Regions from separate parts of the Homo sapiens genome. Here all the other regions are reported to be linked to region 1. The links are microRNA targets in miRTarBase. Many come from high-throughput screens and were not tested one by one. Region 1 holds a microRNA gene; each other region holds the end of a gene's coding sequence.
What was found. The annotated mature microRNA hsa-miR-6838-5p reads AAGCAGCAGUGGCAAGACUCCU and lies in region 1 at 1,590-1,611, shown strand. An mRNA with a match to its seed (bases 2 to 7 or 8) in the 3' UTR can be bound and repressed. Matches are read on the target gene's strand: a 7mer-m8 pairs with bases 2 to 8, a 7mer-A1 pairs with bases 2 to 7 and ends in A, and an 8mer does both.

Region 1 (3,111 bases):
AGGAAACAGAAGTAGGCCAGAGTGAGGTGTTCGTCATGGCAAAGCCATCTTCCATCCTTTTACCACCTCTTGGTCCCACTTTATGCATAAGGAAAAACAGCCATCAAAAGAGATAGCCTGTGGCATGACTGTATCAACATCAGTATCCTTATATTTGGTTGCAAAATTATAGTTTTGTAAGGGGTTAACCTTTTGGGGGAGCTGGGTAAAAGGCACATGGGATCTCCCTCTGTGCTATTTCTTTTAACTGCGAGTGAATCTACAACTGTCTCAAAATAAAAGTTTAAAATTTAAAGGGGGAGAGAAGATAGTGTCAGGCTTAGATTGGGATCTCACTCTGCTCCCTGCCCTAGCCTCACCTTCCTCGGAGGCCTCTCCTGGTCCTGCAATGACGGGGCCCCAGGTTGATCACCTCATGCTGGTGAGGGATGGGGGCTCGGTGTGGTGGGCAGGCTGGGTGAGTCAGGAGGGCCGGTGTTGCCCCCAGGGCTCCAGCACCACCAGGACCTGAGCACCCCAGTCCTGCGGTCCGATGTAGATGCCCTGCAGCAGGTGGTGGAGGAAGCTGTGGGGCAGGCCCTGCCTGGGGCCACCGTCACGCTGACCGGCGGCTTCCGCAGGTAAGAAGGCCCGACGTGCCCCTCTGGCTTGGCTTCAGACCCCTCCCCAGTGAAGGGACCTGAGTCGGGGACCCTGAAGCGGGCCCACTCGTTGGAAGGGATGTGGCCTGGGGCTGGAGTGAGCAGGCCGTGTCCCTGAGTCAGAGTCAGACTGACGCCCTCAGGGGGAAGTTGCAGGGCCATGACGTGGACTTCCTCATCACCCACCCCAAGGAGGGTCAGGAGGCGGGGCTGCTGCCTAGAGTGATGTGCCGCCTGCAGGACCAGGTGAGGGCCTCCCTGCTCCCCAAGAGCCACCGCTGGCCAATGCCACTGCCTCCTGCTCTCTCCACACCACCGGATGGTCTCAGCCACGCCCGCCTCTCCCCACAGGGCCTCATCCTGTACCACCAGCACCAGCACAGCTGCTGTGAGTCCCCTACCCGCCTGGCCCAACAGAGCCACATGGACGCTTTTGAGAGAAGTTTCTGCATTTTCCGCCTACCACAACCTCCAGGGGCTGCTGTGGGGGGATCCACGAGGCCCTGCCCATCCTGGAAGGCCGTGAGAGTGGACTTGGTAGTTGCACCCGTCAGCCAGTTCCCTTTCGCCCTGCTCGGTTGGACTGGCTCCAAGGTAGGCAGTGTGCCGCTGGGCCGCCTGGGGGTGGGGCTGGGCCAGCCCTGCTGAGGACAATCCCTTCCCTACAGCTTTTCCAGCGGGAGCTGCGCCGCTTCAGCCGGAAGGAGAAGGGCCTGTGGCTGAACAGCCATGGGCTGTTTGACCCGGAGCAGGTACATTGTTGGGGACTGGGGACAGCAAACAGCACCCATAGTCCGCTCCCTGACCCACAATCTGAAATGGCCCCAGACCCCTCCAGCCTGAAACCCATAGGACCCGAATCTGGGTCTCCACACACAGTTCCTGGCCCTCAAGAGCACACCCCACCTCGGCGCTGGGCTCTTCCCCACCCTCAGTCTTCCTGCAGGGAAGCAGCAGTGGCAAGACTCCTAGGTCACGGAAGTCCTGCTTCTGTTGCAGAAGACATTTTTCCAAGCGGCTTCAGAGGAAGACATCTTCAGACACCTGGGCCTTGAGTACCTTCCTCCAGAGCAGAGAAACGCCTGAGCCTGCCTGTGTCCCCCACTTCCACTCAGGAAATTGGGCTGCCCCCAACCTGGCCACTGAATGTCTCCAGGCAGATATGCTGCCCCCTGACCCCCACCTTCACCCCTCCCCGCCAAGGCCTGGCTCTTCCGGAGGTCAATTGTGCCTGCAGGATCAGTTGAGCCCCTGCTGGTGTGCTGCAGGGTGTGATGAGGTGGGAGCCCTCAGTGCCAGCCTCATCACTGTGTGACCCTGGGTCTGCTCTTAGCCTCCCCATGGCTCACGTTCCTGCCCTGGATGGGATGTGAGTGGGGCCCACATCGTGGAGCTGTGGTGGGGCCTGCAGTCATGAATGGCAAGTGGTCCCTGATGTGCAGTGTCTCATTAGTTGCACTGCAGTTAACTGTGGCTCCTGCAGGGCACCCTGCCCAGAATGCCCAGAAGAGAACCATGCATACCTGCACTGCATTTGAGAGCCATGAGCTGGAGGCTGTGGTTCGTGCCAGCAAGGAGCCTACTGTCTGGTGTGCTGTAGGCATCTGGAGAGGGAGAGGGCCTGGGTAGGAGCTGGGAGGAAGATAATTTTCAACTATGGGGCTTCAGTACTGCAGCGCCCCGAGCCAGGCTCTGTGCTTCTGCCTTTAAGGCCTGTTCTCAGCACAATGTCTCAAAAATAGGTCATATCCTGCCACTCCCGTCGCAGAGCCCTTTAATGGTTCCAAACCCTAAGTCCACACATAGCCCCTGGCTCTGGCATCTCTCCAGCCCCACTGGCCCCGAGCTGCTTGACTCACCGGCTTCCTATTTGATGCACCCAGGCCCCCTTGTGGCCAACTCCCTCCCCTTCTCACTGAGGCAGAAGCACTGAGGTGGGCTGGACATGGGTGCCCTCCACGTCCCTCATATCCCCAGGCACACTCTGGCCTCAGGTTTTGCCCTGGCCATGTCATCTACCTGGAGTGGGCCCTCCCCTTCTTCAGGCCTTGAATCAAAAGCCACTTTGTTAGGCGAGGATTTCCCAGACCACTCATCACATTAAAAAATATTTTGAAAACATGCAGTAAAGTTGACTCTTGGGGTGCAGTTTTTGCACACGTAGGGCACACCAGGTCCATCCCCAGAACACTTCCCATGCTGTCCTATTGTGGTCATGTGCTTCTCCACCCCCACCCACTTAGCGGTGCTACATCCCTATAGTTTTGCTTTCTCTAGAATGTCATGTAAATAGAACCAAACTATATTTAACCTTTGGACTGGCCTCTCCCCACAGCCTAATGCCTTTGACGTTCCTGCAGGTTGCTGGGTATGTTGAGTTTGTAATTTGTTCCATGCCATGGGTGTTCTACAGTTTATCCATTCAGGTGTTGAATGTCTGGGTTGTGGCCGGATGCCGTGGCTCATGCCT
Region 2 (3,111 bases), not on the chromosome of region 1:
GGAAAGTAGAGTACATCATTCTAGCCGAGGGATGAGAGGGCAGGCAGATGAGGATAGCCACACAGGTATACGCAGTGTTGCCTGATGATTAAACCTGACAACTATTTTGGGAACTGAGATTTCAGATACACTATTTAGAATTTAGACTGGCAGCTTCCAAAGATTACTGTTCACTTGAGTTTGTAAACTGGAACCTCTATAAACTTTAGTGCACCTGATCTGGCTCTAGAGTACACTTTACAATGCATTTAAAAATAAAAACAAACAAACAACAAACTTCCACAGATTGCCCTTTCGGGATGTGTCATTTTTAGATGCTCATTCTCCATTTGGTGCTACCATATAAACCCCTTGAAAAGTTCAGGGGATTCTTTCTGATAATGATCAGAAAAGGGTGAGGCCTGGGATATAGCGGGAGCAGCAAAAAAAAAGTTACTCTCCTCTTACTGAAGATACTCTTCTGAGAACTTCCATTGTCCCTTAGGAGGAAGGAATGGAATATGGAAGTTCCAGAAGATACTGCTGCCTTCCGAAGATAGTTACAACAGGATCATAACTATGAACCCTAAGATTACTTTTTTTTTTTTTCCTTTTTTTGAGACAGAGTCTTGCTCTGTCGCCCAGGCTGGAGTACAGTGGTGCAATCTTGGCTCACTGCAAGCTCCGCCTCCCGGGTTCACCCCATTCTCCTGCCTCAGCCACCCACGTAGCTGGGACTACAGGCGCCCGCCACCACGCCCGGCTAATTTTTGTATTTTTAGTAGAGACAGGGTTTCACCGTGTTAGCCAGGATGGTCTTGATCTCCTGACCTTGTGATCCACCCGCCTCAGCCTCCCAAAGTGCTGGGATTACAGGCGTGAGCCACCGTGCCTGGCTGAGATTACTTTTTTATGTAGCACCTGCCTTGCTTCTGTGTCTTATAAAGACACAGAATTCTTACAAAGCTATGAAACAGAGTCAGGAAAAATTACTCATGGCACTTAAAGATGTTTAGAGACTGTAAAATGCCTTCATTTTTTTTTTCTCAATGCCCCTGTGAGGTAGGTGTCTGTGGGGAAAAAGCTGAGGCACGGAGGGGTTAAGTCTGCTCACCTTTTCATTGCATGATGAGCCAGTGGTCCAGCTAGCAGGACCAGGTGTCCCAGCTCCCTAAACTTTATTCACCCTGCTTCTCAGAAGGCTTATTTATGTTACACAACAAATACAGCAGGGGAAAGTTTTCTTTTCATACATTTTAACTAGTTGGCTATTTCTTATTCTCACCTTGAACATAAGTTATCTCAGATAAAACCAAATAAAAACAAAACAAAAAAATCAATATTGCCTAACAGTCTGTGTCAAATGCAGCCTATTCTGCACTAGTGATTGAAAAAGCACAGAATATGATTCAAGTAGAAGTATTTGTGGGTGCTATGGTGTTCCTGTTGACTCAAGCCAGGCTGTGAGTAAAGTGTCGCTTTAGACACTACCCACTGTACTTTGTAAGAACTTCTTTGGCCTGACACAAGGGAATAAATCTACCACCCCTGTTTCATGGTGAAACCATATTCTGAAAGATATTCTACACATGCTGGCCCTGCCTGGAAAGGGGACTCTCAGCCGTGTGATGTGTATTACCGAGTTCATGCACAACTCTTTGAAGCTGGACATGAAGGTCACAGTCTCCTGACATAAAGCTCACAGGACAGTTCACACTACGGACAGAGGGGCAATACCACAGGGTACATGCACTAGCACCATGCCACAGAAGTCAAAGAGAAGGACAAGAAGCCACCACACAAGCATCTTAGAGTCCCATCTGGTATGCCATTTGCAGAGGCTACCTCTGGTAAGGGGAAGACTGAAGAGGTCCTGTACTCCTTTCCATAATAAGAAGAAGGATCAAAACAGAGCACTCATTGCTGGCTGCTTTGAGCATACCGCCTATCCAAATTTCACCCCTACATAAGTTGGTAACTTTCCTTGTAGATATTCAAAGATAATATATGTCATTTCTTCATCAAGAGAGAATCATGTCAGGCAAAATTCAAAAGTTAGTTACAAGACGTGGATGCAGGGCTCCAAGGCAATTTACACCACTACTCTTGGAATCGAATTCATGAGTACTCAGGGCACTAGCTTTTAGACATGCAATACTTCTTTTTGAGACTTTTCTTTCCCCTATAGTATCTAAAATGTAAATTCCACTCATATCATGACCCCTAAGTCTAATGGAAGATCAGATATTTGGTTTCAGGGTCTGAAGTAAATCACAATACCAAATCAGATGCATGTATCTATGAATGCTTTTTGCCTTGATATTAATGCAAACGCCTGCCCTCCCAAGGCCTGTCCTCCCCTTGAGCTCATCTTCCAGGGGGCTGAGCCTGCTCCGTCCTCTGCATATGCAGGACCAGAGGGAATCATTCCAACTCAGAGTTTCACTGGGATACTAGGATACAGCATAGCAGCAATTCATGCACTTTATTTCTAAAAACCAAAGCTCAGGCTGAGCTGGTCACTGTGCAAGATGAACCAGCAGGACATTCTCGCCTCGAATGAAAATCTGATTTATGTGTCGAGTGAATACCTGCTGGTAATCCACTTTGGGCTTTCGCTTTTTCTTACGGGACTGGCCTCTGGAAAGGGTGGTAGCCCTGGAAAAGGTACCTCCCACACTGGAGCCGTCTGTCCGTGTAGTCCTCCCTGACAGCTCTGACCTGGACTCCTCCCTTGCAGAGGCCTGCAGGGAAGAAGGGACAGAGCGGGAACGCTTGTGTGAGCCCCGGCCAGTGTCTGCTCTTCCCCACACTGAAGCCAACTTCCAAGTGGATGTCTGTGAGTATCTAGACAGAGTGGAATCTTCAACTGCAGACTTAGAATCTGCTTCCTTCTTGGAGGAATCTTGAAGTTTCAGCCGATCAAATAGCTATAAAGCAAACAATGATAAATATTAGCCTTCTCTTTAGCCTTCATCACCCTCTTTCAACATACAGAAAAAGACCAAATTCTTTAATTATGTTCTGTGGACTCCTTGCTTTGCAATTTTTTAAAAGTTAGTAATAAATCTTTTTTTTTTTTTTTTTTTTTGGAGACGGAGTCTCACTCTGTCGCCCAGGCTAGAGTGCAGT
Region 3 (3,000 bases), not on the chromosome of region 1:
TGGGTGTCTTTAATTCTTGACTCAATTTCCAAGTGTAACAAAGCACTCCCCCAATTTCCTGTTCTTCTTTCCAGCCTCTCTTGACCATCTCAAGAAAGGACATGGGTATAACCAGGATCAGGAAGGGGAATGAGCCATTCTTGTCTCTTGCATCCTTTTTTTAAGACCTGCTTGGGTTTTTGAATAGTCCAAACCCTGGCAATGCTTTCAGCCTTTTTGACCTTCAAACTCAAAATCAACATGACTTGGGAATAGCCAAGAAAAGGGCCCAAAATACCAGTTTCCCTTGAGGCCTAATTGTTAAACAGTTCTCAAAGAATAAGTTAGACTTACAGCAGTTCCATCCGTGAGATGGGGGATCAGGTGAGAACCCATATTGTGGGCACCAAGAGAGGCCTTCCTGGATTTAAGGGTTTGCGCCATAACAGAGCCCAAGCATGCGTAAAGCTCTAAAACCTAACGTGCTCTGCTAAAAAGCCCATGAGGTCCATCTCACAGGGCAGCAATGACCAGTGTGGTGGGCTTGGGCAGCCATTGCACAAGAACTTCTGCCAAATGAAGAAGGGCCAGAGATCATCTCATCCAAATGTCATCAGCACCAAGAACTCATGTTCAAACAACAGCACACATGTGGACTGAAGGCTCACAAAAGGCCCCCCAGTGGCCCTCCACACCTCATTCAAAACCTGCTCCATCTCTTCTTTCTCTACAAGAGACTTGAAACCTCAGAGAAGGGGAATCTCTAACAAGAAAAAAAATTGAAATTCCTCTGAGAGGAGAAACCTATTACCTGAGAATGCGTGGTCAGGTTTTTTGGACAAATGCAAATGTGATCCAATTACCTGTGAATGTTCTCAGAGCTTCTTTTCTTCTTTACTCTTCTCTAGCCATAATGTGGCAATATGGCCCTCTGGGAGGTGTGTGCTAGCAGCCATGGGAGTAGAAGGCAGATGCAGGCCCCAGGAAACCTTCAGGAAGACCAGGCTGAAAACAGTCTTCAATCTCAAATCAAGCACCTGTGTCCTCATACTTGCTCAGAAATGGCTTCCACATTCCAAACAGGATTAGACTGTTTGCTCTTACAACACTAACCCTTCTGTTTTTTGAGCTTCATCAATTGTCTACTTGTTTCCCACTGGACGTTAGTAGTGTCTTCTCAACATGGGTCTATGAAAGGAAATTGAGTAGTCAAGGCTGATTCTATATTTCATCTTTGTGGCTACAAACTCCAAAATAGAAATGGCTTAGGATAACACAATCTTTACAATGCCACACCACTCCCTAATTAAATTATTTATACTCACTGAAAATGGAAGCATAAATAAATATTCTCACTTTTCTTTAAAGACTTTAAATGGGAAAGCACTTTGGGGATTTTAAATGCAAAGATGGATGACGCACTGAGAGACAGTGATAGTTCAACACTACTGTAATGGTTTCTGGGGAGGAAACTGGCCTCTTTCAGGGAAAAATGTTCTCAAATATGGGAAACAAAAGGATTATAGATTACACATTACACAAAAAATTAAAAATACAGTGGCTTTATTTCCATTGTTTATAGTCCCCAGTATCCCATCTGATAAGAACCTTCAATTCTATAAACAAAAATATTTCAAGAAAGTATGTTACACAATAGTACATATAAGTAATAGTTTGGCAGAATTTTAAACTCTAGTAGTTCATACCCCCAAAAAACAAATTTTAAAATTCAAAAATAACAGTTTTATTTAACATATGTTACACCTTAACATTTAAAATATCATGCTCTAGTTAAATATTTCATCAACAACACTGTATACAAATAAAATATTACATAAAATATATTTAAGAAAATGTTTTGGTCTTTGATCTGAACAATAAATAAAAACACAGGCACTTCTACATAGACAGGGAAGCAGTTACTACTCAATAATAATCTTGTATAAGCAGCATGTGAAAATATGGCAATAATAAATTCTGGAATTTTAAATTGACAAACCATCTATGCAAAAGTCTGTAACTTCAACCTTTTCACTCAAGTTCAAAATACATATGCCTTCCTGGTCCATATTGAAAATTCACTAACACGATATGGTTGTTAGCGGCAATTCAATCTTCAGTTGGCCATTAAGGAATCACACTGATTTTCAAATACTAAAATTACACTATGATACCACCAGGAAACCAAATACAAGAAAAATTAAACCCTCTTTCTCCTTATTATGACCATAACATCACAACAAGATAAATTAGATGAGTGTCACACCATGATTCTCATTTTGCAAAATTAATTAACACACAAAAATACTGTTGGGGTGGCAGGAAATTTCCACAATTGAAAAACTGAATTCCACAACTGACAACTGAAATTTCAGTTTTCTAGACAATTTAAAATTTACCCAAATCCCATAAAAATAAACATAATTCCATTTCACGAAAACCACTGGATAATGTTTAACAAAGTCTTTGTAGCCAATAGGTTTATAAATACCTGAATTACAAATAAATCAGTCATTATTATGGGAAGTAGGAATATTATAGAAGAGGGCAAACAAAATCACTTAAAATGGCCAAATTCCAGAAACAGGATTTCAGATAAGAGGGTACAAGTTTTTTAAAAATGACCACTAGCCGGTAAGATCAGAACCAATCATCCTGCCATATCATCCATAAAAAAAAATTACCATCTTCCGCTTTCCCTCTTCACGTGAGTACCAAATTGAAGGGTTTAGAGGCCCTCAAATGGGTATCACTCATAAAGGCAATTTTCATGGTTTAATATAGAAATTACTCTAATGTGAGAACACAACATGGGAACTATTCAAAATACACCTTTCTATGCAAAATTGAGTTTGTATCTATTTTAGCATTTTAAATGAGCACTCTGCAACTGAGACCAAATATCAATCATCTCTTGAGGTTTTCTACTATGTACTAACATCAGATCTACATAGGAGCAGATGTTATTTTTGTTTTTCTCCTCGATATCAAATGTCCTGAAGCCTTTGTGTTTCTCTGGAA
Region 4 (3,111 bases), not on the chromosome of region 1:
CAGTAGTAGGAGGTTCTAATCCTATTTCTGCCCTAGACCAGTCATGTGACCTTGAGCAAGTCACTTTTCCATTTTGGGTTTGTTTTCCTTTCAGGAAAATGCCAGGGTTGGTCCTGGACGAGACTAGTTTTCAAATCCTGCTTCTGAAGAACACCGGGAGCCCGTGGCTGGACCAGGTTCTTTGTCCTAGATCGAGCAGTCTCAGGCTGGGAATAGCTCCAACATTAGGTTTCTCTCCCGTAGCATTTTCTTAAACCGTTAGCAATCCTTACTGTTTCCCAGCAAGGATTCACAGATAAAACAGTGAATGAGGGCTGGGCGTGGTGGCTCACACCTGTAACCCTAGCACTTTGGGAGGCCAAGGTGGGGGGATCACGAGGTCAGGAGATCGAGACCATCCTGGCCAACATGGTGAAACCCCTTCTCTACTAAAAAATACAAAAAATTAGCTGGGTGTTGTGGCGCGCTCCTGTAGTCCCAGCTACTCGGGAGGCTGAGGCAGGAGAATTGCTTGAACCCGGGAGGCAGAGGATGCAGTGAGCTGAGATTGTACCACTGTACTCCAGCCTGGCGACAGAGCGAGACTCCGTCTCAAAAAAACAAAAAAAACAATGAAGGAACAACTGGGAAACGCAAATGAATGGGGAATTGGAAAATGGATGACCATATTTGGTTTGACAGTCTTCTTGTTTCTGGAAACTTCATGGTTATGGTGTTATATTACTCACACCATTGTTCTGGTTTCCAAAGCTAAGTTTCAATGACTTTTCAGCACGCTTCATAGAGGACTCTAGGACTCCCCAGTGCCCATAACCTGAAGAGACTGGAGAAATGCTGGAGGCAACACTCTCCAAGGACCTCCCCAGTGATGATCTTTTGTTTTCTCAGTGATGATTTCTTTTTTTTTTTGAGATGGAGTCTCGCACCTCTGTCTCTGAGGCTGGAGTGCAATAGCGTGATCTCAGCTCACCGCAACCTCTGCCTCCCGGGTTCAAGCAATTCTCCTGCCTCAGCTTCCCAAGTAGCTGGGATTACAGGTGCCCGCCACCACATCTGGCTAGTTTTGTATTTTTAGTAGAGACGGGGTTTCTCCGTGTTGGTCAGGCTGGTCTCGAACTCCCGACCTCGGGTGATCCTCCCGCCTCAGCCTCCCAAAGTGCTGGGATTACAGGCGTGAGCCACTCTGCCCGGCTTTCTCAGTGATGATTTCATAGCTCCTCAGAGCCCATCTTTGAGGAATGCATGCAGAACACTGTGGCTTACGTTCGTTAACTCATATAATCCCCCTTTCATTTTCCCAACAGCGTCATGAAATCAGTACTATTATTATATGCATTTTATAGATGAGGGGCCTGAAGCTCAAATAGGGTTAACTGCTCCCCTGAGGTCACACAGTAAGTGACAGAGCTGGGACTGGAAGCGAGCACTCTGATTCCAGAGCTCCCTTTCTGACCCAGTATGCCTGCAGATCTCTGTCATTCATGCTGTCACCAAGGATCAACAGTTCTTCCTTGGACACGTGGAAAGAATGATCTTCCTCATCCCCTTTGGCTAATGAGATGTGAGCAGAAGTGATGACATTTATCACTACCACATTCCCTGTCCTTCTGTAATAGTTGTAGAAACACAATGAGGAAGCCTCCCTCAACCTGGGTCTCTGTGTGAGGATGTTGTGGAGTAGAGGCCTGCCCTTCCACCCCCACCGCTGATCTGCAATGGGCATGCAGTGTAAACAAGAATTAACATTTGCCATGTTTTTTTTTTCTTGAGACGGAGTCTCGCTTTGTCGCCCAGGCTGGAGTGCAGTGGCGCAATCTCGGTTCACTGCAAGCTCCGCCTCCTGGGTTCACGCCATTCTCCTGCCTCAGCCTCCTGAGTAGCTGGGACTACAGGCGCCTGCTACCACGCCCGGCTAATTTTTTGTATTTTTAGTAGAGACGGGATTTCACCGTTTTAGCCAGGATGGTCTCGATCTCCTGACCTCGTGATCTGCCCGCCTCGGCCTCCCAAAGTGCTAGGATTACAGGCGTGAGCCACCGCGCCTGGCCCCCTTTGCCATGTTTAAGCCACTGAGGTGTGAGTGTTGTTACTGTGGGATAGCCTGGCCCATCCTAACTAATCTAATGCTATACTGCGTCCTGTTGATTATCTTTGGCTTCAATCCCCAAGCCTGCCTTCTTCCAACCCCCTGAAAGCAATGGCTCCACATTGATTTGAAAAGCAGCAAGAGCCAGCCTGGCCAACATGCCGAACCCCACCTCTACTAAAAATACAAAAATTAGCTGGGCGTGGTGGCGGGCGCCTGTAGTCCCAGCTACTCGGGAGGCTGAGGCAAGAGAATGGCGTGAACCAGGGAGGCGCAGGTTGCAGTGAGCCAAGATTGTGCCATTGCACTCCAGCCTAGGCAACAGAGCAAGACTCCATCTCAAAAAAAAAAAAAGAAAGAAAAGCAGCAAGAGAAGAGGGGAGCTAGTCCCCCAAACATAGAAGTGGGGATGTGTTTTGAGAGATAAGCCCATGCTGTACCACACTCTGGAGCAGAGGTTATGCTGAATGAAATCTCCACCCAGCCCTGGAAGGCCACCAACAGACATTCGAGCTTCAAGAAACTTCAAGTTTCTCTCCTATACTCATTTATTGGCTCTCCTTAATTTTATTCCGTGTTTTTAAAGTAGGAACGACTGGGCTGGCAGGAGGAGGGCCGGGCTCTCAAGTCCTGGGGATACTGCAGGCTGACAATGACCTTGCAGGCCTGGATCTGAACATCTTCCTCAGGGTGGATGACCAGGGCAAGTAGTCGGTCTGCCAGTCGGGACTCTTCCCCAAAGAGGGATTCATGCAGGGACTGTTCGTTGTAATGCCATTTCACCACGTGGTAGTGGGGTGCGTTCCGGCCCTCACTCAGCCGCTCAGCAAACACCAGTACCTCATACAGGAGACTCCCTGACTGTGTGGGCTGGAACAGGTTTAGGAAGTTGGAGTGAACCTGTGATGGGAATAGAGAAAGAATGGGAATAAACTCCTAGGCAAGTTACAAAATTCTTGTTCTTGTATATTCCTATTGCCTAAACTCCCAAATATACCTAAATTTCAGACTCGAGTATATAGTAA

Region 2: the mRNA of LSM11 is a reported target of hsa-miR-6838-5p. Seed matches in the 3' UTR shown: 8mer at 2,446-2,453 and 7mer-m8 at 417-423.
Region 3: the mRNA of B3GNT2 is a reported target of hsa-miR-6838-5p. Seed matches in the 3' UTR shown: 7mer-m8 at 1,925-1,931.
Region 4: the mRNA of ARMC12 is a reported target of hsa-miR-6838-5p. Seed matches in the 3' UTR shown: 7mer-m8 at 2,449-2,455.

The regions. Positions count from the first base shown.
Region 1 is chr7:44,071,907-44,075,017 of GRCh38, reverse strand. It overlaps MIR6838 (microRNA 6838), which reads left to right and starts at 1,585; the gene lies at 1,585-1,640. It overlaps POLM (DNA polymerase mu), which reads left to right. Exons shown (of 11, transcript NM_013284.4): 7 at 488-620; 8 at 785-887; 9 at 993-1,235; 10 at 1,310-1,393; 11 at 1,641-2,956. The coding sequence ends at 1,727. RefSeq lists enhancers at 580-649, 720-919.
Region 2 is chr5:157,754,652-157,757,762 of GRCh38, reverse strand. LSM11 (LSM11, U7 small nuclear RNA associated) reads right to left here. Exons shown (of 4, transcript NM_173491.4): 4 at 1-2,909. The coding sequence ends at 2,499. Among named protein-coding and RNA genes, the nearest start is that of LSM11, 12 kb to the right of the region's middle.
Region 3 is chr2:62,223,257-62,226,256 of GRCh38, reverse strand. It overlaps B3GNT2 (UDP-GlcNAc:betaGal beta-1,3-N-acetylglucosaminyltransferase 2), which reads right to left. Exons shown (of 2, transcript NM_006577.6): 2 at 1,526-3,000. The coding sequence ends at 2,843. Among named protein-coding and RNA genes, the nearest start is that of MIR5192, 19 kb to the right of the region's middle.
Region 4 is chr6:35,748,413-35,751,523 of GRCh38, reverse strand. It overlaps ARMC12 (armadillo repeat containing 12), which reads right to left. Exons shown (of 6, transcript NM_001286574.2): 6 at 2,445-2,986. The coding sequence ends at 2,654. Among named protein-coding and RNA genes, the nearest start is that of ARMC12, 13 kb to the right of the region's middle.